Regions from separate parts of the Homo sapiens genome. Here regions 2 and 3 are each linked to region 1. Evidence: fine-mapped expression QTL. A gene starts in region 1. Each other region holds a variant in brackets. All regions are shown on one strand. Distances are between the middles of the regions.

What was found. PIP is the estimated chance that this variant, and not a neighbour inherited with it, causes the effect.
Region 2: its variant is the best candidate, but not a certain one, in a credible set for the expression of RAD51AP2 in pancreas (GTEx, PIP 0.59).
Region 3: its variant is the best candidate, but not a certain one, in a credible set for the expression of RAD51AP2 in cerebral cortex (GTEx, PIP 0.63).

The regions. Positions count from the first base shown.
Region 1 is chr2:17,513,652-17,524,238 of GRCh38, forward strand. RAD51AP2 (RAD51 associated protein 2) reads right to left here and starts at 4,789. Exons shown (of 3, transcript NM_001099218.3): 1 at 1,518-4,789; 2 at 361-441. The coding sequence starts at 4,764. It also overlaps the pseudogene LOC101928149. RefSeq lists enhancers at 4,317-5,516, 4,501-5,050 and a silencer at 4,812-5,061.
Region 2 is chr2:17,450,557-17,461,143 of GRCh38, forward strand. No RefSeq gene overlaps it. Among named protein-coding and RNA genes, the nearest start is that of RAD51AP2, 63 kb to the right of the region's middle. The variant C/T (reference allele first, on the strand shown) is at 6,418.
Region 3 is chr2:17,433,107-17,443,693 of GRCh38, forward strand. LOC105373448 (a long non-coding RNA gene) reads right to left here and starts at 8,822. Exons shown (of 3, transcript XR_939759.2): 1 at 8,742-8,822; 2 at 986-1,040; 3 at 480-856. The variant T/C (reference allele first, on the strand shown) is at 4,552.

The sequences.
Region 1 (10,587 bases):
AACAATGAGAAGCATAGAGCATGCTCTCTATCAGAGAGCATGGTCCCTATTACACATCTCTATTAGATGTGTAAACTAGGCATATGCAACACTTAACATATAGTCACTTTAATACATCAATACAAATATCTGAACGTAGTTTTGCAGAGTGCATTTCCCAATAATATTCTAAATAGCATTTTAACTGTTACCAAATTTTTAATTATTAGAATTTATCAGTATAATATTAATGCTCTTAAAAGGTGCTAAAACTTTGTATTTATTTTGAACAACATGAATATCTATACTTTCCTCATACTAAAAATACCATAATGCAATAATCATCTTAGAAGTTATCCTAAAAAGTAACCACAATGTTACCTCCTCTCAATAAATAATTAAATTCTTCTTTACATTCATCAGGGAGAAAAGCAGGTCTTTTAGGTAAAGGTGTTTCACAATCTGAAAATAAAGAGTGATATGTTACAGCAAAAAGTAACTTTTATATAAAATATTAATGGTATAAACAAATTATATTTTCAGAAATATTTCCTTCAGTTGGCTCCTAATATTTAGAAAAATGAAGTAGGACTCTTCAAAGCTCCTTTTTAAAATTAACTTGTTTCCTTCAACTTCAGTATATTATTGAACATTTGAATACATCTTTATGAGAAAATAGTGTGCACCCAGCTAGCAGCTGCTGAGAAATTCAAATTTCAAGGTGAAGCTGTGTCAAAGTTCAAGGTGAAGCTGTCTCAAACATTCAAGAAAACACACAGACTCCAACTGTACAAGAGGAGAGTGAAGAGGAAGAGGTTGATGAAACAGGTGTAGAAGTTAAGGACATAAGGCCTGGCGTGGTGGCTCACGCTTGTAATCCTAGCATTTTGGGAGGCCGAGGGCGGCGGGGGGGGTGGATCACAAGGTCAGGAGTTCGAGACCAGCCAGGCCAACACAGTGAAGCCCCCATCTCTACTAAAAACACAAAAATTAGCTGGGTGTCGTGGCAGTCGCCTGTAATCCCAGCTACTCTGGAGGCTAAGGCAGGAGAATCACTTGAACCCAGGAGGCAGAGGTTACAGTGAGCCGAGATTGTGCCACTGCACTCCAGCCTGGGCCACAGAGCTCGACTCTGTCTCAAAAAAAAGAAGTTAAGGACATAGAATTGGTCATGCCAGAAGCAAATGTGTCGAGAGCAAAGGCAGTCTGAGCCCTGAAGTACAAGTAATGATATGTGGTAAATGCTATTGTGGAATTAACAATGTAACTGTATGAAAACACCTTTTTTTTTTTTCTTGGTGTTTCCAAGGAGTAACTGCAGCTTGCTTTGAAATTTGTATTGTTTCTATCATAAATAAAGCTATGGCTTCTTGCTGGAAAAAAAAAAAAAGAAAGAAAATAGTGTGCATCAATAAACATTGTCTTGCATTTTATCTCTACCTTCCTTCTTTGTTGTCAAAATTATACATTTGGCCTACACAGAAAAAAGCAGTAATTTTTCTAGCATGAGAAATAATGTTCTAAAATGAATTTCATACCTTTCTCAGAAGTAGAGTAAAGTAATTCTTCCTCTGATCTACTTGGATAACAACTCTCATTAGGAACTTCCTGTTCTCCATTATTGGGTACAGTTTTCCATTTAAATAAACTTTGGTGACTTTTGCCCATATTAGGACCTGCTATAGTATCATGGAACGAGGAAGATGCACGTATTTTGTTGACCACAACCATTTTCAAATCTTTTTCTATCTCCATTTTTACCTTCTCAGCATCATTTTCTCCAAAGTAATTTTCTTGCCCATTGTTTGTTTCCACAGTGCTTAGAAGTTCATTTTCCCTACTAATTTCATGAAACATACGAAGTTCTTCAAGTACTAAGTCAAATTTTCTCTTCATCTCAAAATCTTTTACTATTGTCAGAGCTTCTGTTGATAAATATTTAGCAGCTAAGTCCTGAAAACATTCATCATTCCCTTCACTCAGACCAGTTTCAAATTGATGATTAATATATAATGCAGAGTCATTCTTTCTGTGAAAATCCTTTGAATTAGCTATCTCCCTTTCTGGCAAAATACTCTCATATTCATTTGTATTTGTTACATAATTTTGATTAACATATTTATTTTCTTCCACATTTACTTCCTTACTTATTAATGAAACTGACTGTACAGAAAACATGTCATCCATTGGAAAAAAACTATCTTTCTCTTCCTTTTCTATCTTAGTATCTTTGTGAACTTGGCAACTATTTGTTAAACTTTCAGCTGTGACTTTTACTTCCTCTTTCAAAATTAAGTCATATTTTTTTTCTTCTATTTCACTTAGCAAGTTCCAAAAATTTAGTACTTGAGTTATAGAAGTGGTATGGGTCTCTTCATTATGTATTATGTTGTGGCTTGCTGGTATGGCCTGTTGCCTAACATTGCAGAGATCTTCAAATATGTGCTCACAGTCAAAGTTACTGATCTTATTATGTCCCTGTTTTCTTTCCATATTTAAATCTTGGCTGTGCATATTTACTTCATAAAAATTTTCATTAATGTATCCTCGGTTGTTCTGTATAAATTGAGGACAAGAATTACCATGTGCTTTAACAGTACTAGAATTATAGTGAGCCCAATTTTCCACATTCACAACTTGTTGAGGACAACTCATATTCTGACAAGTAATTTCTCTTATTAAAGAAATTTCATCCATGTCATCAAAGTCCATTAAAAGGGGAATTTTTTCATATGTTTCAAAAATCGGAAAACCTGTATTTTGAGTTGTCATACTGAAGGAATTAATGAGTTTTTTCTTAGACTTTTCAAAAACTTGTTCAGTTCTAAATAACTTCCTTTTCTTTAACATAGGTTTCATATTATCTTCTAATAGTCTTGAAGAAGTTAAAATCTTTACTAGATATGCAGTATGATTTTCCACTATATTTTTTGGATACTTCAAATAAAGCATGCACTTGAAAATGCATTCCTCTTCTAATTCAAAATCATTTTCAATTCTTGTTAAAGAGTCAAAGTTATTGAGCAAAAAAGCTATGTTAGTTTTCAATAGAATATCTAAAGGTTCTGAAACACTATCTTGTAAATATATGCTTAAAATTCCATTCTTTATATTTGTATTCATGTTTCTGGTTATTAGATTTTGAATACCAATTATACCAATTTGCTTTTTACACTTCAAAATGTTACAGCAGGTTAAAATACTATTATCTTTTTTATTTCCTGAAATACTTTTATGGAAATAAAAAATTTCTATAATGAAACTTTCAAAAGGGTTGTTCACATGAAAGACTTTTTGTGTAGTATTGTATCTCAACTGTAGAGTATTATCATTTTCTCCTTTACCATTTAGCCAAACAGTCGTTATTAAAGCTGTCTGACTACCTAATATTTCTCTTACGAGAAGCTTTGATTGTTCTTCATATGCATTGATGACTTTTGCACAGTGGTAATCTTCCTTGCTTAAAAGGTCTATTTCTAATAATAATAGCCAATTCCATTTTTCTTCAGTTTTTTTCATATTTTCACATTTAGTCTTGCAATTATTTATAATCCAACAATTTCCTCTATTTCTTCTCAAAATATGTCTAACGTTACAGTCCCAGTTTTGAGATTTTTCCAGCCTGGTAAGTACGTAACTGTCCAGACATTCTGCTTCCTCCCAATTTGCATTTTCTAGTATAGCGAAATTCTTTCTAGAGTCTCTTACATTACACTGGATACTACTGCAGTTACAGTAGTTTGAACTGATCAAGTCTTTTCTCTTACAAGTATTTTGGCTACTGAGTGATGGGTAGTCATTTTCATAACATTTGGAAAAAATGTTTTCCGCTTCTACAGTTTTTTTATCATTCTGTAACTTTTGCTTCTTAACATCAGGTCTATTTTGGGACCAGTAAATGTTTGTGAAATCCCTAACATATGCCTCTTTTTTGTCATTCTTTTTCTTCGCTATTTCCTTTAAATAGACAGAGGACATTTTGCTATTTAAGTCCATTGGAAACTGAGGGACACTTATTGTGCCGCTATCTCTAAAATAGCTAGGTTTGGCAATTTCCAAGCTGGGCTGGTTTTGAGATTTTGATATTTTTAGTACAGATGATGAAATGTTATTTTCTCTTTTATTTGATGGCACAACACTGTTAGCTTTACATCTGTTCTTAATTTCATGAAATGGTGATTTAGTTTCCTTGTAAAAGGTAACATCTAAAAATGGATTTTCTTTGTGAACATTGTCTCTTCCTTGGACAAACTGTTGTTTTCGATTCTCATTTCTAATTCCATGTATATCGTGTATAGAGGTGCTGGGCAGAAGTTGACTAACCCCTGCTTTGGAGCTATTACTGCGGTGCACACTGAAAGCCTCTCTGTCATGCAGGCCTGCCTCAGACCTTCCTGAAGCCCTCAAATCAGAATCAGGACTTTGTGAGGGGGGAGACTGCAAACAGCTACTCATTTGGAATTTGAGATTTGAGCATTTCAGATTACATATCTGCTTCCCACTGACTGATTTCTCCACACACGAGTCTGTGGAGTTATCGAAAATAGCATTCGTTGAAACAAGGAGTCCCTTGAAGGGTCTAGGGGACAACTCCCAGACTTTTTCCGCCTCAGACAAGCGAGGCACCAGAGGCAGTCGCCAGCCCGCCTTAAAGACACCTCCAGGCTCCTCAAGACAGAGCCGCTTGCTACTAGGTGGTTGGGAATCCGGGTCCTCAGGAGGCGTTAAAGAGGAGGTAGGCTTTCTGAGCTCGGCCATCCGCGGCGTGGGCTGAGGGAGAGACATGACAGCGAATGGAAAGGATCTGTCCGAGTCCCGGCGGGGCTCCAATCCCTTAATAGGCGGTTCCGGGCCGCTCTGGTCACGCCCCTGACCCGCCCCTCAAGACCTGGCCTTAGCCTAATCTCAGGGTTTGCCCCACCCCGAATCCGCCCCTCCACAGCCCCAGCCTCAGCCCCGCCCCGCCTCCCTCAGTCCCTCCTCTCCCTGCCCCCACCCACGCGCCCCGGTTGTCTCACCACTGAAGGTCGGAGCACCCTGGGCCGTTACATTGTCTATTTTTAGCGCCTTTTTCTAATGCCACGACTGTAGAGAGTCTAAATGCTTTTTTCCCTGTGGTAGAACGAAGGGGAAAAGTTAGAACCTCTCACTTAAAAAAAAAAAATTTGTGAATGGTAACAACTTTATTTTCTAAATTCTAAAATTTTGTTTACCTCAGAAACGGCATCTCCACAACGGCTCGAGTGACTCTCCAGTAAAATCGTGTAGTTCTGTCAGCACCAGACCAAATCTCTCTGTGTATGGAAAAACTTTTTAATCCTTCCAGCGTCACTTAAGATCATATTAATATTTCCACTTCACTAATAAAGTGTGTTTGGGGGAAAAAAGCCACCAGTACTTACCAGTCTATCTGAGGAAAAAATGTGTGGAAATTATTATCCGGATAATTATTATTCTTCACTTAAGACTAAAAAAAAAATAGTTTACTATGTGCTGTGGGGATTTCTTCTCAAATATTGTGGATAAAATTATTTAGAGATAAAATATTATATGTTTGAACTACCCCATTTAGTGTAAACATAATAATACAGGTCTGACTCATACCTACTAACAAATTTTTAGACGCTATTTCTTGTTTTTTTTTTTCCTGCTTTGAGAATCATTTATGATTTCCAGTCAATTCTGGTTTTTGTGAATTCTATAATCATTAAGAAGAAAATGTTTTTCAAAATGTTTATTATTATTATATACATGTTTCTTAAGAAACATGTAACTGGTGCTCAGTAATAAACACCTCGATTCCCTTGGTGGTTGTTTCAAGCTTGGTATGTTTTATATTACATTTTATGCTAAAATTTATAATAACTACAATAACATGCAACCAGAATCCTAACTTCAGAACCCTCCCATGGCATAGATGGCAATATATAACTAGCCTTCTACTTTAGGTAATAAGATGTTCACCAGTTTCATGTTTTTTAAATACTCTTAGATACATTGTGATTACTTCAGTGTAAATTCCTCTAGAGAAATGTTTACTTAAGTTTGTAGAAAGCCTTGCAGCAGAAGCACTTCATTAACACTATAAATAAGAATGTGGCAGTGGTTCAGATTCCACATCAGTGAATTCTCCAAGTTCTACTTCTGTGTATCTTATGTTCTATTGCTTTTCTATCCCAGATTTTCCACAAATCTATATTCTTTTCTAATCCATTCTGTTTTAGCCCATAAGGGGTGACTTGTATAGCTAAGGTGTATATAATTGGTGCGCTAGTGTGATATTAGGACCAAGACTTTTTAAATCTGTAAAGTAAATGCCATTGATTGTGATTTCTAGTCTAGATTGATCTGTAACTTGATATTTGATTATTTCTTCATCTTGCTAGTTTGCCCAAGAGCACATTATTTTTTATATCTCCATCACATCATTATTTAACAACTCTACATTGTTTAAGGATTAAAATTCAAATAAAACCCAGAAGTATTACATGTAACTCAACAATTGTTTGACTCCAAGATACAGAAATGTATAGTTATTTTCTCCATCCTGAAGAAACTTACAGCCATAAAGACCAAAAAAAGAGTCTTTTCTTGCATTTACTTATTTAAACATTATACTAATGGCCACTGCCATTTCAAACAATGGCTATTGAAACCACTATTTATGTGGGTTTTTTCCTTTGTTTTTTTAAATGCCACCTAGAAAATGAACCAGTTATAAGTGAGAAATGCAAAAAATTATGTCTTCAACTCATCATAATCAAAATATAAATAAGACTTGTCTGAATCTTACTGATGCCTCAAAGCCCATTTCAAATGTCATATTTTTCTATATCACTTTACCCAACCCTTCCTTTGAAGTTCTTACCTTCCTTAGTAACAGTAAACTGAGCTTTAAAGACAGCATCTATCTGATTTCTTTTAGCGTGGTGTCTTCTTATAGTTCAACTCTGAATGAATAAAAGGATTAATGAGTTCATGAGATAAACCCCATACTGAAGATATGACACAATCTCCTATTAGAGTTAAATCAGAAATTTACTCAATATCAATATCAAGTCTAATGTCCTTAAGCATAGTATGTCACATCCTCACTACTAGGTCCTACTTAACTCTTTCAGCTTCTTTTTTTTTTTTTAAACAATTTGCCCCCATGCTGCCTACACCAGAATGTTTATTTTCTTGCTCTTTTATGTATGTTCTCAAAGCCCTTCATTTCTCCTCCTGGCAAATTCTTATTAAGCCTTAAATGGCCCTACTCAAAAGTTACCTCTACGGTGAAAGCTTCTCTTCCTCCTCCCTGCTGTAGCCAATCCCTGGGCAGAATTACTTGCATCGTCATCTGTTTCCTATAGCAATTTATTTCTAACTGTAGAACACTTAAAATGTCTTTATTGTATTGAGTTGTTTATATGTCCCCTCCACTAGGCTCCATTAATCAGGACAAGGATTTATTAATTTTTGTATCCCCAGTGCCTCTAAGTACCTCAGTTAATTAGAAGAAATGAAATGACTCCATGGTTAATACTCATTTACCAACTCAAATGGATTCATGGTGTCTTGAAAGTGCCTTAAGTTTCTTGTTTTTGTGTTATTTTGCTTTAGTTTTATACATTAGAGACTTGCTTTTATAATCATGTTGAAATACATTTAACATGAAAACTATGCTGAGCTATAACACCATAGGAGTTCAAAATGGACTTCAAATATTAGTGGTTTTAGCATCATTTGTGTTTCATGGTAGAACCAGAAATATGACAAGACAGTTTTTCCCTTTTACTTCTTTTAATAAATCATGTAAGAAGTGAATAAATATGCTAAATCTAAAAGTTTGTTTCAAACTGAAAGATAATAAAATATATTTCAAACAGTTAAAAGAACCACTAACAAAAATATTTAAATACAGCAGTTAGAAAGGAAAACATCATCACTTACTAAAAATATTTAAAATAAATATGGCTATAAATAACACAAATAGCACTTTTCATCAAGTCAATGATAAGCACTAGGGGAAAATAAGAAAATCAGGATACTGTGTACATTTATTTGCATATAAGATTAAGTTTTTATCAGCGCAATAATGGTAATTTGTAACATAAATAACATCTTAAATGTGATAACATATGTGCAAATGCTTTAAACTATAAACCACCTTTTTGTCCTCAATGTTCATTAATGACATCATAATCTATCCAGTCTCCTAAACTAAAACTCTTATATTATCCTTAACTTTTTCTCTTTTTTTGTTTTACTACTTCCCAAAATGCATCCCCTACATAGACATTCATCAAATCTTGTTGATTTTACATCAAATATGACCCTGAAATTAATCCCCCTTTTATCCATAATGTATCATCTTTATTTCAATCTCTCGTTATCTCTTTCTGAGAATATTGTAATAAACCAGTCTTCATTTTACTAGTCTCTTCTCAACTTCTGCCCAATACCATTACAAAAGTTTTTTTCTTAATAGAATATTAATCATTTTGTTACTTTCTTAAGAACTTCTTTTAACCTTTGATGCCCTTCAGAATAAAATACAAACTTTAATTTGACATAGAAAGTTCCTCATAGTTCAGTTCTAAACTGTTTTTTTCAGCTTCCACATCTACTCCCACAACACAACTTACTTTCCTGCAGCACTTAACTTCTTGCCATCCCTTAAATGTATAAAGCCCTTCGCAGTTTCAGTCTAGGCCATATGCTGCTTCGTTTGCTTAAAGCATAGTGGCAGGTCTTACTTAGGAAAGTTTTCTGCAGTGATCCAAAGTTTACAGTCATCTTTAGACCCCTACAGTTTTATTTGCTAACCTTTTTTTTAACTTCTAAATTTCTCCGCATTATTATGTTATTATATTTTCTGCTTACTTAGCTAATTAGAAATAACCTTTTTCCTGAGCTCTAAGTATTGGAAAAACAGGTGGAATGTTCCACTATTTACAACATCCATTTGATACTCTAATAAATTTCAGTAACAATTTAAGAACCCTGTCGCTGAAATAAAGCAAGAGTTTGTTTTTTATTAGAATCCGTGCAATTGCAAATAACACCTTTTTTAAAAACAATTACGAGTTCTTTCCAATTAGACTTTTGTAAAAATCTTTTCAAGGTTTTGAGAGGACAAAATGTCTTTTTTTAATCATATAAACTTAAAATACTTAGATTACTTCCTCCTTTTGTAGTTTTTTCCTGAGTTTAGTCACATAAATATTTAGTTGGACATGGCAAATTTATATAGCTATCTTTTACTTAAAATTTTCAAGGAATTACATATATTGACATTAAATAAAAAATACATTTAACATGAAAACTATGCTGAACATAATTTAATTTTATATCCTGAAAGAAATATTGAATAGTAGTTGGAGGAGTAGAGTCGAATCAAACTAAGTTTTTGAATCTATAGTCCACTCATTCCTTGATGTGTAATATGAGCAAATTATTTAGTTTTTCTGAGACACAGCTTCCCATAAATGGGAATTAAAAAATAGAACCTACCTCATAGATTGCTGGGTAAAGTAAATGAAATACAGTATATAAAGCATTTAGAAGAGTCCTGGGCACCCAGTCAATGTCCATTTAAAAACATTTTTAATTACAATAATTATTATCAAACTCATAGTGTGCTGAGCTGGCTCTTACAGATTCAGAAGAGTTGATTGTTAGCATCTCTTCCCAACTGTGTATTTCAGTAACTTCACGTGGGTAGTTTGGAAGTATTTACATCACTGTAAATGGCTCATAATGGAAGTATTTATATCACTGAAATCAGCATATGCTACAGATCAGAGCTTTTTTTTCTAGAAAACCAGTTGTTAACAGTTACCAGCATAGTACAGCATCAAACTCTGTCTTATGTTTCAATAGTAATTTATATTATTCATACTATCTAAGTCAATTCTTACTACAAGCTTATAGCTGTAGTGAGCCAGGCAGTTTGTCTAGCTAATATCAAAGTCAAGCAATTCAATAGACTCTATATTTGATGCCAGGACATATGCAAAAACCTCATTTAAAAATAAAAGAAGCTCGTTGTAGTTAGTTTTCATCTCATTTGATAGTTCTTTATGAGTGGAAAGTCCAAAACTTAACATATACAAAAAAGTAGCTATTTAATATTTTAAGTTTGTTTATAGTTTCGTGATTTCAGAATGCACATAGGTTCTGTTCACAGGAAAACAATGGATCAAAAGAATACTCCCTCTATCATTATCTAGGACAGAGTATAGCCACTGCCTACTATCAATGAATAATCATTGAATCATAATATAATCTTCAAAGTACTTTTAAGTGGATGCTGTCATGTGATGATTTAACTCTCCTTTGATTTGCTGAACATCTATTATGTGCAAGGATCTGTGCCTGATGCTGAATGAAATATTTTGACATGTAAGATTTAATCCTTGTCTCTAAAGAATGCATTCTAACAAGAAATATGCATATAAAAGGATAACCAACAATACATTGCCGAATCAGGCTGTTCACAACTTTGTCCTAGCTATTTTTCAGCCTTATCTTCAGCCACTTCACTCTCCTCTCCTGTGCCTCTCACAATTTGCCACACAAAACTACTTGCAATTTCCAAACATTCATGTGTTTTGTTGTTTT
Region 2 (10,587 bases), 63 kb before region 1:
TAACTCAAGGTAGATTAAAGACTTGAATGTAAGACCCAAAACCATAAAAACCCTAGAAGAAAACCTAGACAATACCATTCAGGACATAGGCATGGGCAAAGATTTTACCATGAAATCACCAAAAACAATTGCTAAAATTAACAAATGGGATCTAATCAAACTAAAGAGCTTCTGCACAGCAAAAGAAACTATCATCAGAGCGAACACACAACCTACAGAATGGGAGAAAATTTTTGCAATCTATCCATCTGACAAAAGTCTAATATCGACAAGAAACTTAAACAAATTTACAAGAAAAAAACAGACAACCCCATCAAAAAGTGGGCAAAGGATATAAGCAGACACTTCTCAAAAGGAGACATTTATGCAGCCAACAAACATATGAAAAGAAGCTCATCATCACTGGTCATTACAGAAATGCAAATCAAAACCACAATGAGATATCATCTCACAGCAGTCAGAATGGCAATTATTAAAAAGTCAGAAAACAACAGATGCTGGAGAGGATGTGGAGAAATAGGAATGTTTTTACATTGTTAGTGGCAATGTAAATTAGTTCAACCATTGTGAGAAACTGTATGGTGATTCCTCAAGGATCTAGAACCAGAAATATCATTTGACCCAGTAATCCCATTACTTGGTATATACCCAAAGGAACATAAATTATTCTATTATAAAGATACATGCACGCTTATATTTATTGCAGCACTATTCACAATCGCAAAGACATGGAACCAACCCAAATGCCCATCAGTGATAGACTGGATTAAGAAAATGTGGCACATATACACCATGGAATACTATGCAGCCACAAAAAGGAATGAGTTCATGTCCTTTGCAGGGACATGGATGAAGCTGGAAGCCATCATCCTCAGCAAACTAACAGAGGAACAGAAAACCAAACACTGCCTATTCTCACTCATAAGTGGGAGTGGAACAATGAGAACACATGAACACAGGGGAGGGAACAACACACACCAAGGCCTGTCAGGGGTGGGAGGTGGCCACGAGGGAAGGGAAAGCATCAGGACAAATAGCTAATGCAAGCAGGGCTTAAAACCTAGTTAACAGGTTGATAGGTGCATCAAACCACCATGGCACATGTATACCTATGTAACAAACCTGCAGGTTCTGCACATGTATCCCAGAACTGAAAGTTAAAATAATAATAATAATAATACCACAAGCAAGTCTCAATGTAACATCAATAAAAAACTCACAATATCAATGTTGTAAGACAGTGGAACAAAACAGGAATTCATATGTTGTTCTTAGAGACATAAATTGTTACATCCACTTTGGGAAACTATTTGGTGTTATCCAATAAAGTCGAATATATGCATACCCTGTATATCATTCCTACACATATAGCTAACAAATTTTACATTGGAAAATATAAGAATGTCCACAGTGGCTTTTTCTTTAAGAGCTAAAATTAGCAAGGTAATGTAGAAAATGGTAAATGGATGAATAGCACATTCATACAATGGAATATACTTTACGCAATGGAAATGAACAAATATCAACTAGGTGCTACAATATAGACGAATCTCACAAACATAATATTGAGCAGAAGATTCCAGAAGCATTCCGACAGAGGTGCAGCCGATGGTGGTGCTGCTAGCAAGAAACAGGGAGGGTGGCCACTATGCCCTGCCCCAAGATGCTGCAAGGCTTGCACCCAGGACAGGAACCCTCCCTTGTCAGGGGCAGAGAGCAAGATGGATCTCAGGCAGGCACACTCCAAGAGGCTCTGCTGCCAGGACAACAGAGGGCTGGAGAGTAGACAGTTGAGTTCTGATTCCAGAGTGGCAGCAGGGAGTGAGCCTCAGCATGAGTCCAGACTCCAAACCCCAGTGCATGCTCAATTGTCCCATCAGACTTCACTTACAAAACACAAATTCTAGGAGAGAATTATTAGGAATTTTGAGATTGCAAACACACAAGCACAGGGCCCTTTTGAACATGTGTCCCTATGTGACTGCACTAGCCACATACCCATGAGGCCTGTCCTGCTTCAAATACAAAAGAATACATACTGGGTAACATATAAAAACATATATAGTTTTTAAAATTGGGTGGGGACCAGTTCTCCTTGGAGAAATGGCTGATTCTATGTCTCAGACATGGAAAGTACAAAGTGAAAACATGGGCCAGTGGGTGTCAGAAAGCAAGGAAGTATTCAAAAACTGCTAGGAATCTATCAAATGGATAGAAGAGCCAGTTTAAAGGTGCTCCCACTGGCCACATTTGGGATGACTTGGGCACCAGAATTAGTAACTGTAATTTGTTGCATTGCATTGAATAAATAAAAATTCCTGAAAATATCATCATGCTTATAAAGAAAATGCAAGAGGGCAAATAGGGAAGGAAAGAAAGGACGGTGAGAGGGAAGGCAGAAAGAAGGAAAAGACACTCACTTGCTATCATTGCAGGCAATAATTATTCAACTCCTTAACTTGAAAACTGGTGATTGAAGGGAAAAGAAGTAAGCATTTACCTCACATGTTAAAATTAAACTATAACTCACTGCCAGTTGATGGTTTAAAATGTTATTACAGAAAAAAAGGGATGTATTAAAAGTAGAAGAAATGATCCTTTTAAAATGAAATGTAATTTTAAAAAATAATTCAGTAAAAGATTATCAGTGGGTGCTAAAACCATCAGAAGGAAAGTTGATGGAATGGGATATTCACATTTTATGGACGTCTCACTCTTAGGATTGTCCGCTGTGAAAGGGAAAATTTACCTTTGCAATAGAGAAATCTTGTAGTTACCACCTTAACTAAGTAATCAAACCTAGTATCACTAATAGTGTCACTTTACATCTCCTGATGCAATACAGGATCTTGTGAAAATCTCTTTGCCAAAAATGATTGATTGAATCTATTTGAGCCTTTAGACCTATTCTACAGTTTATAGGAAATACAGGGGTAAAGAAACCAATTAAAGGACACCACGAGAAGCAAACAAACAAACTCAAAATGCAGACATTCCACTAAATAACTGGTCTTGTCTTCTAAATAATTAAATGTGAAAAATAAAATTGTGGGACGGCTATTTTAGACTAATGGGACATAACCCAAAATTTTTACTCACGACATTTACTGTTAGTTAATACATGAGAATTGTTGTGAAATTTCTAGGTGCAACAATTGTATTATACCTATGTGACAGAATGTCCTTATTTTTAGGAGATGTATCTGCACTGTTTTGGAGGACAATTTTCTCAGAAATGATTCTGCAGACAGACTAAAATGTTAACGACTGTGGAGTCTCAATGGAAGGCATGCAAATGTTAACTCTATTAATATTTCAACTTTTCTGTATGTTGGAAAAATTTTTAATGGTGTCAAAGTCTTATTGTAACTTACAAACTTTCTCTTTAACAGCTAAAACTTTCCTTTGAACAAAATCTTCCAAAGCCTTGTGGAAAATAAAGCAGACACCACCAGAACTGTTCTGATTGAAGCAGGTTAATGGTGCATCGCTATCAGCAACCCCCTCACCCCTCAAAGGCATGCCTGAAGCCTTCAGAGAAACTCAGTTTTAAACCACTGGCTTAGTAAATTATTCCCCATAGTGACAAGAAGGGCTGGAGGGCAGCAGAGCACCAAGTACCTAAAGAAAAAAGTGTGCACAGAGAAAAGGGCATAAAAAAGAAAGATGACAGAGAAATTAAGATACATTTCACATTCCCATTAAGGCCAATTTTCTCCTATGGCATTTTGGGATACTTAGGTAAATTTTCTCTGACAGCAAATACAGTCAGAGACCCAAAACCTAGGGAGAAAGAAGCATTGTCCTTAATAGAGTGTTCATCATGAAACATAGAGCCAAAGTGCCCATCTATTCTAAACCGCTCATAAACAGATAAAGAAATCAAAGTTTCATGTGGTCTTTTTTTAAAAATAAAAGATATGGAGTTTAAAATCCAATTTAATTGCACTTTAATTACTAAAAAGTTTTAGCCTTGGTGAAGTTTCCTGGGTAAAACAGGCCAGATAAGGCAGGTTTTTATTTACTTCCTGTTTGAAATGCATTTCACTTTTAGAAAATAGCCTACTAAATGTATGCATGTTTTAATTATGTGCTGTTTAAAGCACAATTAGGTAGTATAAATTTTAATTAGGTACTGAGCATTTATTTTTATTCTTTGTATGTTGTTTTATATGTGCAGGTGCTTATGATTTTAAAGACCTGACTCTTCCTTAATTAGTTCCCACCCATTCTGGTCTTTTTCTAAAATAACAAACCACATAATTTATTGTGTACATCTAAATATGTACAATTTCCTAAGAGACAAAGATTTTCTAAGGAAATAAATTTGTGAACTTAAGAAAATAACATTTTTTTCTAGGTTTCTTACATGTGAGTAGATGCTTGGATTAAAGTTTCATAGATCTTTGCCATTGTTATGAATGTCTAAGAATTATTTAAATTTAGAAAATAAAGAATGGAGTTCTTTGAGAGCATGTTGTAAAAATAATGTCTACAGTCTTGATATTTAGTAAGATACGTTTTTAAAGAACTATTTTTTCTTAGTATCAGCATGCTTTCTAAATTGAATCATAGATCTTAAGGCAAATAATCAAGGTCTTCTTATCTAGAAAGCAAAAAGTATTGTCTCTATTGGCAATCCAAATCTAGCCATTGTTACCAATCAGCCTTGGGAGAGGTCAATAAAGGGAGGGAAGATAACTAACACATACTGAGTGACAACCGTGTACAAGGTTGTCTCACTTAATTCTCATGACAATTCTACAAGGTAGATAGCATTTTCCCCTTTAGAAAGTGTTTGGACTAGGATTAAAATATACGTAAGACCTGCCTGACTGACTCAAAAACCCATGATTTTGACAAAATATCAATTATTATTAGAAGTTAAAATTTAAAAGGGAAAATGAAAATAAACCACATCTACAGGAAACTGCGTATTTGGGTGCATATAGTGTGAAGCAAACAGTTTTTATTGCTGGTGAGAAATCATAATGAGACAACTTACAGCATCAAAACAGATGTTTTTCAGCCTGCCTTAAGAATTGAAGAGACCAGACACTGTGAAACTACAGAAACATTCTCTCATTCTCTCAAGCTATAGGAGAAACATTAAATGGTGATCTTCTTTTCATTCACTTTTTCAGAAATAGAAAGTCATTAAGTCAAAAATAAACATATTTCTATACCTAGGAGTATCTAGAATTATGTCAATAACTAAAGGAAAATTAATTATGTCACCATCTCCAACACTGCCATTGACCTTCCCCACTCACCAAAAAAAAAAAAAAAAATGCATCAAGACTTTCCACTTTGTGCGGTAGTACCAGCACTAACCCAGAAATTCATTTTTTAGGTTGATCTTTGCCCAGTATGTCACATCACACTTCCATGAATAGCACTATTGATTTTAATAGTAGATATAATTTTGAAGACCAAAAATTGGGCCCAAGAACAATACCAACATAGTTGTCTTCTATCAAAAAGCCAGAGTTACATAGTATGTATTTTGAAATCTGTAAAATTTGGATATTGTTACCTCATAGATCTAGCATTAGGATTTGTCATAAATTTGTTCGTATGGTTGCTACCTCAGCATCCATTTTTGGACCAACGTAGTTATTTTAAAACCAATAGTACCCTATCACCTTTGGCCTTGTTAAAATTTCCCCTTCCTGAACATCACACACCAGGGCCTGTTGTGGGGTGGGGGGAGGGGGGAGGGATAGCATTAGGAGATATACCTAATGTAAATGACGAGTTAATGGGTGCAGCACACCAACATGGCACATGTATACATATGTAACAAACCTGCACGTTGTGCACATGTACCCTAGAACTTAAAGTATTGTTTTAAAAAATTTAAAAAAAAAAAAAACTTCCCCTTCCTGTGTGGCTGTTTGTGACACAGCCCCCTATCGGGGAACCTGCCCCGATATTCACGTAGGTTCTTTTCTATTTTGCTTAAGCATCGGCCGGCTTGAGAAATAAAGGGACAGAGTATAAAAGAGAGAAATTTTAAAGCTGGGCGTCCAGGGAAGACATCACATGTCGGTAGGTTCCATGATGCCCCATAAACCGCAAAAACCAGCAAGTTTTTATTAGGGATTTTCAAAAGGGGACGGAGTGTGCAAATAGGTGTGGGTCAGAGACATCAAGTACTTTACAAGGTAATAAAATATCACAAGGCAAATGGAGGCAGGGTGAGATCACAGGACCACAGGACCGGGGCAAAATTAAAATTGCTAATGAAGTTTTGGGCACCATTGTCATTGATAACATCTTATCAGGAGACAGGGTTTTGAGAGTAACTGGTCTGACCAAAAATTTATTAGACAGGAATTTCCTCCTCCTAATAAGCCTGGGAGCGCTATGGGAGACTGGGGTCTATTTCACCCCTACAGCCTCATCCGTAAGAGA[C/T]GGGGACACCAAGGGGGGCCGTTTATAGGCCTATACCCCCAGGCACGTATTCTCTTTCCCAGGGATGTTCCTTGCTGAGAAAAAGAATTCAGTGATACTTCTCCCATTTGCTTCCGAAAGAAGAGAAATACGGCTCTGTTCCACCTGGCTCACTGGCAGTCAGAGTTTAAGGTTATCTCTCTTATTCCCTGAACAATTGCTGTTATCCCGTTCTTTTTTTCAAGGTGCCCAGATTTCATATTGTTCAAACACACATGCTCTACAATTTGTGCAGTTAATGCAATTATCACATGGTCCTGAGGCCACATACATCTTCCTCAGCTGACAGGATTAAGAGATTAAAGTAAAGACAGGCATAGGAAATCACAAGGGTATTGACTGGGGAAGTGGTAAGTGTCCATGAAATCTTCACAATTTATGTTTGGAGACTGCAGGAAAGACAGGCATAAGAAATTATAAAAGTATTAATTTGGGGAACTAATAAATGTCCATGAAATCTTTACAATCCACATTCTTCTGCCATGGCTTCAGCTGGTCCCTCCGTTTGGGGTCCCTGACTTCCCACAACAGCCCCCTTGTTCCTCATCCCAGTGACCCAAAACCCAGCATGCCCACAGCTACTGACCATTAAAAAGCCTGATGGTCAACACCAGAGTCACATAAATCAGTTTCTCGCTTTGCATATGTTTTCTTTAAACTAGCCAACCCGCAACTCCAGAAGGAGAGCCTAGGGGATAATGCCCACAGATCTTAATAAAAGCAGAGTCTCACAGGTTTTTTTTCTCTCTTTCCCCTCTTTCACCACCCCCCGCCCCTCCCTGCGGGCTGACCATCCTGCTGTCTCTGGACTTCGCTCATGGGCAATCCTATTCTCTCACAGATCTGTCAATAACGTGCTGCTTCTGCCATTTCATGTGTTTTGTTGTACTGTCTCCCCTGTGACCTGACCTATACACCCCAACCTCACTCCCCTGGTCAGAGCTCTTCCTACAGAGTGGCTACTTGGATGGGAACAAACTGGACCTAGGTCAAACATGAACTACAAGGCATCTTTCAATATAAACAGGCTTCCTGGGAGAGAGACACCTGATCTTGCATCTGACAGACATTAGGCCATCTTCCAGGATAAAGACAGACCCCCATGAAAAGCACACTGTAAACATCTATGACCACCTCCTCTGAACTTCCACCAGGGCAGAGCTAGAATTTATAGCCACTCTCCAGAGAGAGACCTCAAGACCAAATTAGAGGAAAATCACAACAACAAAAGTCACAACAGAATTAAATAAGAATAAACACATGAAAGCTATTTTAGTGCCCAATATACAAGAGGTAATTCTAATGGGTAGAATAGTGGTCCCCTAAATGATAGGACCACACCCTAATTCCTGGAATCTTTTAATGTTACCTTATTTGAAAAAAAAAAAGTTATTTGCCGATTTAAGTTGAGGATCTTGAGATAAAGAGATCACCCAGGATTACCTGGTTGGGACCTAAATTCAATGAGAAGTGTCCTTATAAGGGATAGGAAAGATTAATATAAGAGGAAGAAGCATTATGAAGATGGAGACAAATATTGGTGGAGTAATGTAGCCACAAGCCAAGGACACCAAGGAACACCTGGAGCCATCAGAAGCTGGAAGAAGCAAGGAAGAAATCTACCCTAGAGTTTCCAAAAGGACTATGGTCATGCCAATGACACTTTCATTTCAGATATCTGGCCTCCAGAACTGTATGAGAATAGATTTATATTATTTTAAGCCACCTAGTTTGTGGTAATTTGTGGTGTCAGCCCCAGGACTCTAACACAGTTCTCACATGGTAGTTATTAGTGTTCTCTGGCTACCATTAGTAATTAGATTAAAGTCACTGCTGTGCCTTCTTGTTGGTTTAATTCAATGGTTCTCAAACTTCAATGCACATTAAAATCAACTGGGAAGCTCTTAGAACATAGATGCCCAGATCACATCTCCTGAGTTTCTAGTTAAATTGTTAGGGGTTAGGGGAATGGATGTGGGTCTTAGTAGTCTTCTGAAACTCCCAGGTAAAGATGACATGGAGCAAATACTGAGACCCACTGTTAACAATGATTATTCAGAATCTGTCTCCCTCTTGAGCTCTATCAGGAGAGGGACCATGTCTGAATTGTTTCTACCTAACACAGTGCCTGACATTTAGTAATGTATTGGTTGAATAAATAAATAAGTGTCTAATCCTCTAATATATATTTATTCCCATGTAAAAAATGAATGAAACACAACTCTTCCCCTCAAGCAGTTCACAGCGGTGGGAAGAGGAAGAGGAAGGAACATTGGGTTAGAAAAGAGAGACTATCTAAGAATAAAAGCAATTATATCAGGTAGAATTACATTCAGCTGCAAATAATAGAAACCCTAAAATAACAATGCCTTAAACAAATAGAAGTTTATCTCACATGTAAAAGAAATCCAAAGCAATCTATTAGTAGATTAAAATTGGTGAGATATTTTTAAACCTATCAGAGACCTTAGCTTCTCTCTTATTCCTCTTCCCTTCTAGCACACAGCTTCTAATTCATAGCCCAGTACAGTTGCCTGAGCTCCAGAGATGACAAGCACATTGCAGCCAGCCAGCAACAAGGGATAAAGACAGACAATCACTATCTCATTAAGTACTTACTTCCCAGTGCACATGACACTTCCACTTATATCCCAGTGACCAGAACTTAGTCCTATGGCTATCTATCAGAAAGGCTGAGAATATTGTTTGTGCATAGCTAAAAGTTGGAAGTTCTATATACTATCAAAGAAAAGAGAACTTGGATATTTAGGGGGATAAATTATTATCTCTGCCATAATATTAACTCTAGTAGAACAAACTTAGATACTAGGCTATAATAAAGGTCTAAAGAGCTTTGGAAGTATAGGGAAGAGAACTAAAATACAACTGGAAGCATCAAGGAAGGCTTCATTGAAAAGGTATCATGTGAGCCAGGACACGAAAGATAAATAGAACAATAACTAATACAAAAGATGCTTCAGGTAGAAGGCAAGAAGGAGAGCATTCCAGTGTGGAAAAAGAACAAGAGTTTTAAATCACAGAGACCAAGTTTGAATTACTAGCCTCACTACTTAATAAATGAGTTGTGGGAAGTCGTGAGGTTTGAATAAGAATATAAAATGCAATTTGCAAATAATAAATTTGAAAAAATATCTATAATAAAGATGAAACAGAAGCCTCAGATGAATGATGGAGAGATCTAATTGTCATACTAAGAACTTTGGATTTATTTTGTAATAGTGAGGTAATGGAGCACATTAATTGAGCTCATAATATTCCATCTTTATGGAAAGTACAGTTGATAATTTTGATAATAAACTTTGGTGCTTTTAATAATAAAAAAACTGTTTGCTACAGTCAGAAAATCTACATACCACCTTGGAATTCTTTCACAGCATTTTATTCCTCCTTACAGCTTTCAAACCATCTAGTAGACACATGCAGAAAAATCTGTTTGAAAATGACAAGTAAAAGATGTTTTATAAACTCCAGATGGAATTTGGTCTTTACTCAGATCAAATAGAAAAAGGCATCCAGACACCAGGGTAGATACAGAGCAAGCCAATTCTAACTTAGTGAAATAAAGTTTACTGTGTTTTTCTAACTGAACTTTAGTCCAGAAGCATAGCAGTTATGCTACTGTGGGGAGGGGGAAGGAAAAGTGGAGGGAACAGTGGAAAGTTACCATTATTTATTGAGAACCACAAGGAACCAGAGATAGTACTAAATATTTAAATTCCATGTCTCATTTAAACCCAGCAACCTTATGATTTGAATGTAACTGAGGTTCAGTAAGGCCCAAGTTACTGCATAACCAATGTCATCTAGTCATTGGATAACCAAGATTTAGTCATTGGTGACCAAGATTCAAAACCCAAAGCCTGTCTTATTCAAAAGTACTTGCTTCTTCCACACAGGTGATATGTACTTTCCTGCTCAGCCATTCAATGACTCATTCACTCTTAATTCTTTACTTCCAACTTATTTCCTCCAACTTTTAATCAAAACCTACCTCTATTATTCTATTTACCCAGATGTTTCTAATTTCAATATTCACTAATTTTCTTCTCCATTTCTGAATTATCCTACTTCCTGATTTATAATATAACATATAAACATTTCAAATTTTAA
Region 3 (10,587 bases), 81 kb before region 1:
CAAATCATAAAAGAAGATCCCACTTTTACCAAATTTGTGAAGATTTTAAAATAACAATATGAATTATAATGAAAGAAAATATTAGTGAGGTTAAAGTTCAGGAAAATGAACCCTCTCCTACAATGCTGCTTATTGTACAAATTAGCAGCATCTTTCTGGAAGACAACTTGGCAATTCTTGTAATTAAAATCCATGAAATGCAAACTCTACTTCTAGTAATGTAGCCAAAGAGAAGTGTTATGGATACATGCAAAGACTGAAGCATTGCCTATAATATAGAGCAACTGAAAACAATGTAAATGCCCAACAACAAAAAATAAATTATGTCATATTTGTATATGGAAATGTTACCCATACATTTAAAAAGACAAATATTTATTGACATGCAAAAATGTTCATTTATATTGTTAAAATTTAAAAAAAGAACTTATTACAAAACAGCATTATCACATTTTTGTAAAAAAACTATATACGGTATTTAAAATGGGTACGTTAAATTGAAAGTTTTATTTTTGCATATTTATACTTACTAAATTCTACACGTTTCACTCATCTATTCATTACTCAAAGTATTAAGGATATACAATGAAATGAAAATATGCTGACAGTATTTCTCCCATCATGGAGCTTACATTCTAGTGAATGGAGGTAAGCAATGAACATATAAATAAATGGGAACATATATTATTTTTGTAAAGCAGTTTCTAAAGATTTGTTTGTAAAAGTTGATAAGGAACAAAGCAAATATTATAGCATTTAAGATTTGGAAACATTTCAATAGAAGTCATGTGTAAGAGGATATGCTCATTGTCTTCATTTTTTTCTGTTCCAATATGGTAGAAGATGTTTTTGAGACCTAAAATACATGTGTAAAAAAATCAATTTGGTAGACATTTTCTTCCATAGGCATACATGGAAGTACATATGGGACAGTGTACACCTATTGGCCAAGAAAGAGAAGACTTAGCATTATCCTAATTCTTACCTGCCAAGTACCCTTGGGCAAGCCAGTTGACCTCTTTGTGCCTCAGATTCTTCATCTGATAAAGAAATAATTATGTTTCAAATATACTCTGAAGAGTTCAAATAAATTATACCCAAAGACAAAGTACTCTTAAAAGATATTCTAATGTATGCAAATGCATGTGTTCTTGACAAAAAATCCTTGCTAAAAGCAACTTAACAAAAATAACAATACTAATAGTAGCTACCATTACTTGAAAACCTATAAGCTACACACCATGCTAGACGTTTTAATTATATGATGGCTTTTAAACATCCTGACAATTGTTTGAGTCAGGTATTACTATTCTAATTTTACAGGTGAGAGAAACAAGAGTCAAAGAAGTTAAATCATGTCTTCACAATGAAACAGCTAATAAATGACAGAACCCAGATCTATAGACCTTTAAAACTCATTACGTTCCTTTTATGTGTCCTCATGCTTCAGAATTTCCTAAATTTTACAAAAATTGTGTTAAAATAAGGAAATCCTAAATGTTAATGTGAAAGTATCATTTTAGTCTTCTAACTTACCCAATCTTGGTGATGTGAGATGAAAATTAAATGATTAGCAGGTTAAAATAGAAAAAAGTAAAAGAAAAAAATTACATAAGTTGAAAAGTATAAACACTTTGTACCCTGCTGTATATTTATGATAGAAATTTTACTTTTTAGTACTTCACAAAATTGGAATGCTTCAGAGAAATGGCCTTTTCCCAAATAAATTCTCCAATCCCAAACCTACACACGACGAAAGCATTCAACTAGAAGAGGCTGTCTAACACTGAGGGCTTGGTACAGTTTTGGAAAAAGTGAGGATACCTGGCTTCTAATCCCAGTAATTCTACTTTATTGGGTAATATGGCGTTGGTCAAACCATGTACTCTTCGGGTCTCAGACACCTACCTCAAATCTGAAATTGACTTCAAAAGGCTGGAAGCAGGTGCTCATAAATCCATAAATATACATGGCTTTTAAACATCTGGAGTTTTATACCAATGTCAAGGATAATTGTTACTAGTGTCCTGAGGTCATTAGGAGAAGACAGAGCTCTGCCTCCAAAAAGTGATAAAAAGTGTACTCACTCACATCAGAAAGTATAACAAGAGGAACCACACACACACACACTGGCACACACATACACACACACACACACTCACGAAAGGCATGGTCAGTTTTGGTAACGTGAATCCAGCTATCCAGATCCTAATGAAGGTAAGCAGGATATCTGGGCTCCTGACTCAGTCCCCATCCTCTTACCCCAGCACTATTCAGAAAGATTTTACAGTACTGTACTTTGATATAGTTGTGTTAACCACGGGGGACTATCCAATGGCTTTGTAAAAAGCTTTTAGACTGATGATTAAAAGTTAGGCAGAACATAAAAGAAAGTGCCTTCTGCATCACCACTTGTTTAATGCCCACTAGACAGATTTCTCCATTGGGCCTGCTTTATCCAGAAGAAGGCACCAGAAAACTAATTTATTAAAAAGGGGCCTTCTGGTTCAAGGCTGAGGCAACGTTTCTTATGATTAATATATCATCCTCACAAAAGCATGGCCCAGGGTGTTTTTATGTCACTGATTACCAAAGAAAGTTAATGTTCTTTATTTTAGTTCTTTAAATGGACTTTAATTTTAAAAGTATTTTATTTTCTTCTGCTTCATTATTTTTATGTTTTTTTAAACAATAATGGTATATATTTTAGTAATATGAGTTTTGATTCTTTCATATTATTGGTAATATAATTAGTAAAATTTTAAATAGGAACTTCAGTCAGAAATATGATTTCTACAAGAGCAGAATTGTGTAGTAAGTACTTTAAAACAAAATATTATTATATATAATAGAATCTTATTGTTTGTTTCAATTATAGAAATGAATAATTATAAATAAGACCAAACTTAGATGAATAAAACCAGAAAATAAAAGTATTTCAAACAGCTTAAACTCTTTTAGGGTCATATAAACATATGATCCTATTAAATGCTTTCATTAAACAATGTTATTAACAATTTTATTAAGTTGAGCTCATGTTAACTTGCTTTTTAAAAATGTTCCTAGGTATGTCCCTTTTGATCAAGTTATAGTTAAAAGTCTCTTATGAATAAAATGGAAATGATAGTATTTACTTCATAGGGAAGAAAGAGTGCCTAATTGCCTGGTAGACAGCAAGGTCAATATTAGCGAGGGCTCTTTAATTAAGCTGTACTTTTAAAAATTAATTTACATTCTGCTTTCCATTCCAAATTTGCCATTGTTACAAATGCAAAACCATTTTAGCACTTCCCAAAGGAAGATTTTCAAAGTTTCAATAAATACACGAAAAAAGGTTTAAAATCATCAGTCATCAGAAAATGCAAATTAAAAATTCCAATTAAATGGAAATGTAAAATTTTCCAATTAAAAATTCACTTCAGCTGCTCTTGAGAGTGTAACTTCTACTACACTCTCAAGAATAGCTAAAGTGAAAACAAATGTTGGAGAGGATGTAGAGCAACTGGAACTCACAAACATTGCTGGTGGAATGTAAAATAGTACAACCTCTTTGTAAACCTGTCTTGCAGTTTATTAGAAACGTTAAACATAAATCTACCCTGTGACTCTGCAAGAAATGAAAACATATGTCCACCAAAGGCCCTGTACAAAAAGGTTGATAGCAGCTTGTTAATTAGAGCCATCATCTGGTGCATAGATAAACTGTGGTATAGTCACACAATGGAAAACTACTCAACAATAGAAAGGAATTGGTGATTGATACATACAATATGGATACATTTTTAAAATAAGTATATACTGTATAATTCCATTTAGATACAATTCTAGAGTATACAAAAGTAACCTATGCTGATAGAAATCAGATCAGTGGTTTCCTCCCTGCTGTGCATTATATGTGAGTCCAAGGAGGGAGAGGAGAGTGGTGGGTTCTTTCTTTTCATTTTCGGAATTGCCAGAAGTTTGTAATTTTGGGGAGTGGGAGGTGGGGTGGAGGCAAATTGATGGATCTTTTCATAGTAATGGTTTTGTTTGTTTGTTTTTGTGCATGAAGACTTTGTTACCTTTATTAGTTTTTTCCTTTCTAGTATTTGTGGCTTATCATATTGGTCATTTTTGTTAGTTTCATTCTTTATCATTTTAACATATTATTCTAATGTACATTTTCCTTTTAGTACCATCTTTGGCAGCATTTCCTATAGTCTGTTCTTTATTATGACTTATTGCCAAACAGTTTATAATTTCAATGTGGTTTCTTCTTTTAACCAGGAGCTATTTGAAAACATTGTTGTTGCTGTATTCTTATATCTATTTAACTTTCTAATCTTCTTTGGTTGCCCTTTTAAGTTTTACTATATTGTGATCAATCAATTTGACCTAAATAATTTCCAGTTTTTGAAATATATTGAGATTTTCTTTGAGGCTTAACATATGTTCAACTTCTATACATGTTCCATAGGTGTTTGAAAGAATGTATATCATCTACATATATACTTATTTAAACAAGTTTAGTAATTATTGATCAGATGCTCTAAAACCTTATGTATATTTTAC[T/C]TGTCTGGGTCTCCTTTTTATTGTATATGTAAGAGTGTTTTATATTTTAATTGTATATTGCTTGATGAATAAAAATTTAAGTCTGCTACATCTTATTGGTAGTTAGTATATTTTATTGATGTAAAATATGTCTCTTTGCCTCATTTAAATCCATGTGAGAATAGAAACCACCCAAAGTCACACAGATTAATAGGATTAAAATTAAGATTGTTTTCATAATATTATTATTTGACTGCATGCATTAACATTACTGTTCCAGTGTGTCCAAAAAAAGTTGCCCAAATGTTTTAAAGTAACTTATTTCCAGTGCAACTATGCCTTTGAAAAATATATAAAATGATAATCTTACACAATTGCCTACATTCAATGTCAAGAAATAAAACTAAGGGGCTGACTTTATTCCTAAAGTTATGAAGTTGAAAACTGAATTTCAAGGATAATTCTGATTTCATATTTTATAAAACAGGAAAACACCACCGTGGAGAACAAGACTTATTATTAAACTTCACTCTGTTTTATTCTCTGGCCTTAATACATTATGTGCCTCCTGTCTTGATCATCATTAAAAGAAAATTACTCAGGGTTTTGACTTGGAACAAACCCCATCCACTGGTAGCTTTAAGTAAAGATGGAGCTCCTCTACAAAGAATTATTGCTCAATTACCCTGGTAATTGCCCCAAGGACCTTCTTGATTTATACCTGACCCTATACTGAGTTTGTTTGGAGTTCCTGTGGTAAAAACAGTTCTCACCGTTGCAACTGGCTTCTGCCTTTGTCTGTGTCCATTTCAAATTATAATTTCCTTTATCAATCTGGTCCTACCTGCTGTCTATAACTTAAAAATTATGCAAAATATCTGGTATACTTACAGAATCCTTTCTTGCTTTTCAGCACTGTTATAGAATACACACACGCACACACACACAATTTCAAAAGGACCATAGGAACTTAGGAAGGAGCTAGATCTTGGGAGGAAGCTGAGTAGGATCAACATACTGGCTAAGTCAAGGATACACCATTCACATTATGTTGGCCTTGCTTTTCATTGGATTGTACAAAACAGGGCCTCACAGGAAGAAAACATGCATGCTCAGTCTGCCATCTTGAACCTGAAGTATCAATCGCCCACTGAGATTTTAAATAGGCCTTTCTTGCTCCTTTGGGTTATAATTGGTTTAGAAATCACAAAAAAAATTAGGATTGGTTATTTAAAATGTGTATCCCTCTGGCATCTGTGTTCTATGTGAGATCAGCCAAAAACTTTTGTAAATTAATAATCCAAAATATCCTCCAGACACAATGAAATTAAAAGAAGGATATTACCAGTTTCCCCAGATGGGGAAAAAAGAGATTGTGAGGTTAAAGCCAAACAATTAAAATCCTCAAAATGTTCCCAGTGTATTTGCATTTGCTTGTTGATTGCTTTTATCATACAATAAAACTAAAGACTTTCTGCAACCAAATGCAGTAGAAAACAATCTTTACTGAGGAAAAAAATTAAAATATGAATTGCTTTTTGTAGGAAAGACTTGTTGAAACATTTTGTAATTTCTAACTTGAATTGACTGAGGCCCACAGAGACATGAAGGCAACCTTTGCAAAATGTATTAAAAGTAACAACAGGACTTACTCTGTACTTTGCTAAAATATTAGTTAATTCAAAGTGCATAATAATCACTTACAAATGGATGCATATACATCTACAAAATCAAAGCAAAACATCTCTTCCAGAGATTTTTTTCTAGTGTTTTAACAGGACAGCATGGCAAAATAATATTTCCAGTACATCTTAAAATTAAAATAAACATCTACATTACCTAGAACCTCAGAGAAAAGTATTCATTATAATAAAATAAATATACCATAATTTCATAAATGTGAACCCATATGTGTTCATAGAACCAGCAGCAAAATTTTGTCTTCATGACACCCACTAATTGTAAGATAAGTACCAAATTATTTCCATTAGTATTCAAGGTTCTTTGAATTCCAGCCTCCACCTCTTCTGCCTCTATTGTCTCTCATTACTTTCCATATAAATAAATTCTTAAATCTAGGAAACTATTTTCCGTGCTCATTCATGGGTTTATTCATTTAGTAAATATTCATTAAGCCCCTACCAAGTATCAAGCACAGTTTTAGGCACTGGAGACACACCAGTGAAATGACAGACAAAAATTACCGTTCTTGTGAAACTTATGTTCTTTAGAGGACAGGAGGAGACAGATATGAAAGCATAAATTATGCATATATAGGTGTATATGTTTATATAGTGTAAATTATAGGTAAAAGTGAAGGATAATGGAAAAATTTGACCAGAGTAAGCATCCAGGGGTGATGGGGGAGTTGCAACTAATCCAGCTCAAGCCGTTGGCTCCCATTGAAACTCTTCCCAGTTTCTCCGACCTATGGTGACCTTCCCATCCTGTGAACAAGTGTAGTACTACCTGACAATCTGTAGCCTTCAACTGACTTTTCTGGCACATTATCTTATACTGTAATAGGCAGTAAATTTGAAACTGCCTGGAATTGGAGAGAGAAGTCCAGCAATGTAGTTTTGACTCTGTCACTTGGTAAATTATGTAACCTGTAATTTTTTAAAGGAGGGGTTTGACTATATGGTTATCTTAATATCTTTTGAACTGGAAATATCATAATTTTTATGTGTATGTTTTTCTGCCCCCATCAATTTTGCAATAAGCATATGTCTTTTATATATATTCTTTTTAGAACCATCCATATGTTTAATATGTAATAAATGTGTATTTATCTTAATTGGTTTGCTGGTAAAATCATTTTCAGTCTCATTATCAAAACATCATTCAAGGCCGGGTGCGGTGGCTCATGCTTGTAACCCCACACTTTGGGAGGCCGAGGCAGGCAGATCACCTGAGGTCAGGAGTTCAAGACCAGCCTGGCCAACATAGTGAAACCCCATATCTAATAAAAATACAAAAATTAGCCAGGTGTGGTGGTGCATGTCTGTAATCCCAGCTACTCAGAAGGCTGAGGCAGGAGAATCGCTTGAACCTGGGAGGCAGAGGTTGCAGTGAGGCAGGATTGCACCATTGCACTCCAGCCTGGGTGACAAGAATGAAACTCCGTCTCAAAAAAAAATATTCAATTATGAATAAATGTTTTCAGTCATACACCAGTCTTTCCATTGGCTGCAAATATTTTGTGAAGGAATGTTCTCTCTCTAGTCTCTGAGTAAGGTATAGGTTTTAAAAGAACTTAAGTTCAAGAAATCATGGTTCTCAAGCCCTGTCACTAATGTGCCATGAATACAGATGTTTTGTTTAAAAAGCATTTGATCCTCTCTAGGAAAATCTGCCCCTGCAAAGTTTCCATGTCATTTTTAGTTTGTATTGCCACAAAATCACTCCCAGTAACTATTCAATCAAAAAAAAATTTGCAAAAGCAATTATTCCAAACTAGACAGTTTAGAGCTCCCAAGATTCTGTGCCCCTTGTCTTCAGCTACCAGGGTGGATATGGAAGACCCAGAAGGTGGAGGCAGGGTTAGGCGTGTCTGAGCTCAGACTGTCCTTGTGTGGGTCTTGCTGTGAATGCTGTGGGGGTTGGGGTGAGCTTCCCTGGTCAATGGAGTTGTGTACCTAGGAGGATTATGGCTGCCTCTGCTGAGTCATGCAGATTGTCAAGGAAATGGGGGATAATCAGCAGCCACAGATCTCCCCCCAGCTCCCATGCAAATCAAAGAACTGGTCTCACTCCCATCATGACCCCCTCAACAGCCCTGAGTCTGTTTCCAGGCAGTGGGCAGGCTGGTCTTGAGAACTTGCCCCAGGCTACCTGCCTCCCAGCTGCGAAAGACAAGGGCTTGATTCCTCCCCCACCTGTGGAGGTTGCACACCGGATTCAGCTTCTTGCCCAGTTCAAATTGTTACAAAGTTCAGCTGGAGACCTTCTTCCCTGTGGTGATTTCCCCCTACTCCTCTGGCTGCCTCCCAGAGGATCCCTGTGGTGCCAGGCAGGAATGACTTGCTTGGGAACCCAGCGAGATCCCACCTGCTGCTTCCTCCCTGTATTTTGCTTGGCCCTCTAAATTGACTCAGCTCCAGGTAAGGTCAGAAACCTCTCCCACAAACAGACCTTCAGTTTCTCCAGTGGGGGTGTGTGTTCAGGAGAGGAGGATCTCCCTTTCCCGCTTCCGCAGTTGGGTCACTCACAGTATTTGGGGTGTCTCCTGGGTGTTGCAGGAACAGTCCGCTTTTTTCAGAGGGTCTGTGGGTCCTCTCAGGATTGCTGGTTTGTTCTTGAAGTTTATCTGGAGCTAAAATTCACAATGCGAGCCTCCGCACGCTGCTCTGAGTCAGAGCTGCAATCTAATCCTGCCTCCTGTCTGCCACGATGATCGATTCCACAAAGAAAATTCTAAGTCCACGCAGCTTAAGTTCTGTCAAACATTTAAAAAAAAATACTGAATAAAGGAAGAGTGAATACTTATACCTCATAGTATGTGGTCACCATTACTCTGATACTAAAACCAAGGATATTATTAAAAAATAAAACTACAGACCAATATGTCTCCTAATCATACATTCAAAAATCCTTAACACGGTATAAGCAAATTAAGTCCAGCAATTTATAAGAAGGGTAATGCACCATGACCAAGTGGGGTTTATATGATGAATGCAAAGTGAATTTAAAATGTAAAAAATAACCAGTATCATTCACCATATTAATAAAAATATATGATCTCATTAAAGTACAAAAAAGCATTTGAGGCTGGATGTGGTGACTCATGCCTGCAATCTCATCACTTTGGGAAGCCGAACAGGGTGGATTGCTTGAGCCCAAGACTTTGAGGCCAGGCTTGGCAACATAAAGAGAAACCCATCTCTACAAAAAATTTTAAAAATTAGCCAGGCATGGTGGTGCATGACTGTGTCCCAGCTACTTGGGAACAGGTGAAGGCAAGAGGATTGCGTGAGGCCCAGATTTCAAGGCTGCAGTAAGCTATGATCAAATTATTGCATCACTGCACTCCAGCCTGGATGACAGAGTGAGACCTTGTCAAAAAAACAACAACAACAACAAAAAAAAAAACCACTTGATACAATTCAATACACATTCACCCATTCATGATAAAAATTCTTATGTAAATAGAAACATAATGGAACTTCCTGAACCTCATAAAAAAAAATTCACAAAATCCTATAAAAAACCTCATGCTAAATGGTGAAAGATAATTTCTCACTCAAGTTCAGAAAGAAGGCAAGGATGCTCATTCTCAGTGTTCTTACTCAACAGTGTTCTTACTCAACAGTGTTCTGAATGCAATGTAATATGCAAAACAATGCAGTAAGGCAATAAATAAATATATACGATCACAGTGGAAAAATTAAAACTACATCTATTCAAACATAACATGATCATGTATACAGAAAATTCTAAGGAATTCATCCAAAAAAGTTACTAGAAATAACAAATTAATTTAACATGTTTGCAGAATATAAAATCAATATACAAGAATCAATTGTATTTTCTTACACTATTAACAAACAATTAGATCACTGTTACCTCTGACCAAAATGAATTTAAAAGACCAGAATTACCCTCTCAGATGAAATAATTAAAAAGTCAGAAAAAATATATAAAGTAACTGATAAAAACAAGCAGACAAGATACAGAAGCCTTTAAGAATACTATTAAAAATTTTGACATAAATAATAACTGAATCTGGCAACTGCATAATTCATATCTCTGTAAGTACAAACAATATTTATCTAAACTGACGGTATGCTGGGCAATAGAGTAAATTTTAACTCATTTGAAAGTACTGGAATTATAAAGCATATTATCTAAGTAGAATGGAATAAAGCTAAAATATAATTTTAAAAAAACAACTAGAGAATCTTCATGTGTTTAGAATATTAAGCAATAGACTTCTAAATAAATCACTTTTTAAACAAGACTCAAAATGAAAATTAGAAAGTGTTTTTTACTAAATGATAATGAAAATATTGCATACTAATGTTTGTGGGATGTGATTAAAGCCATGATCAGAAGACA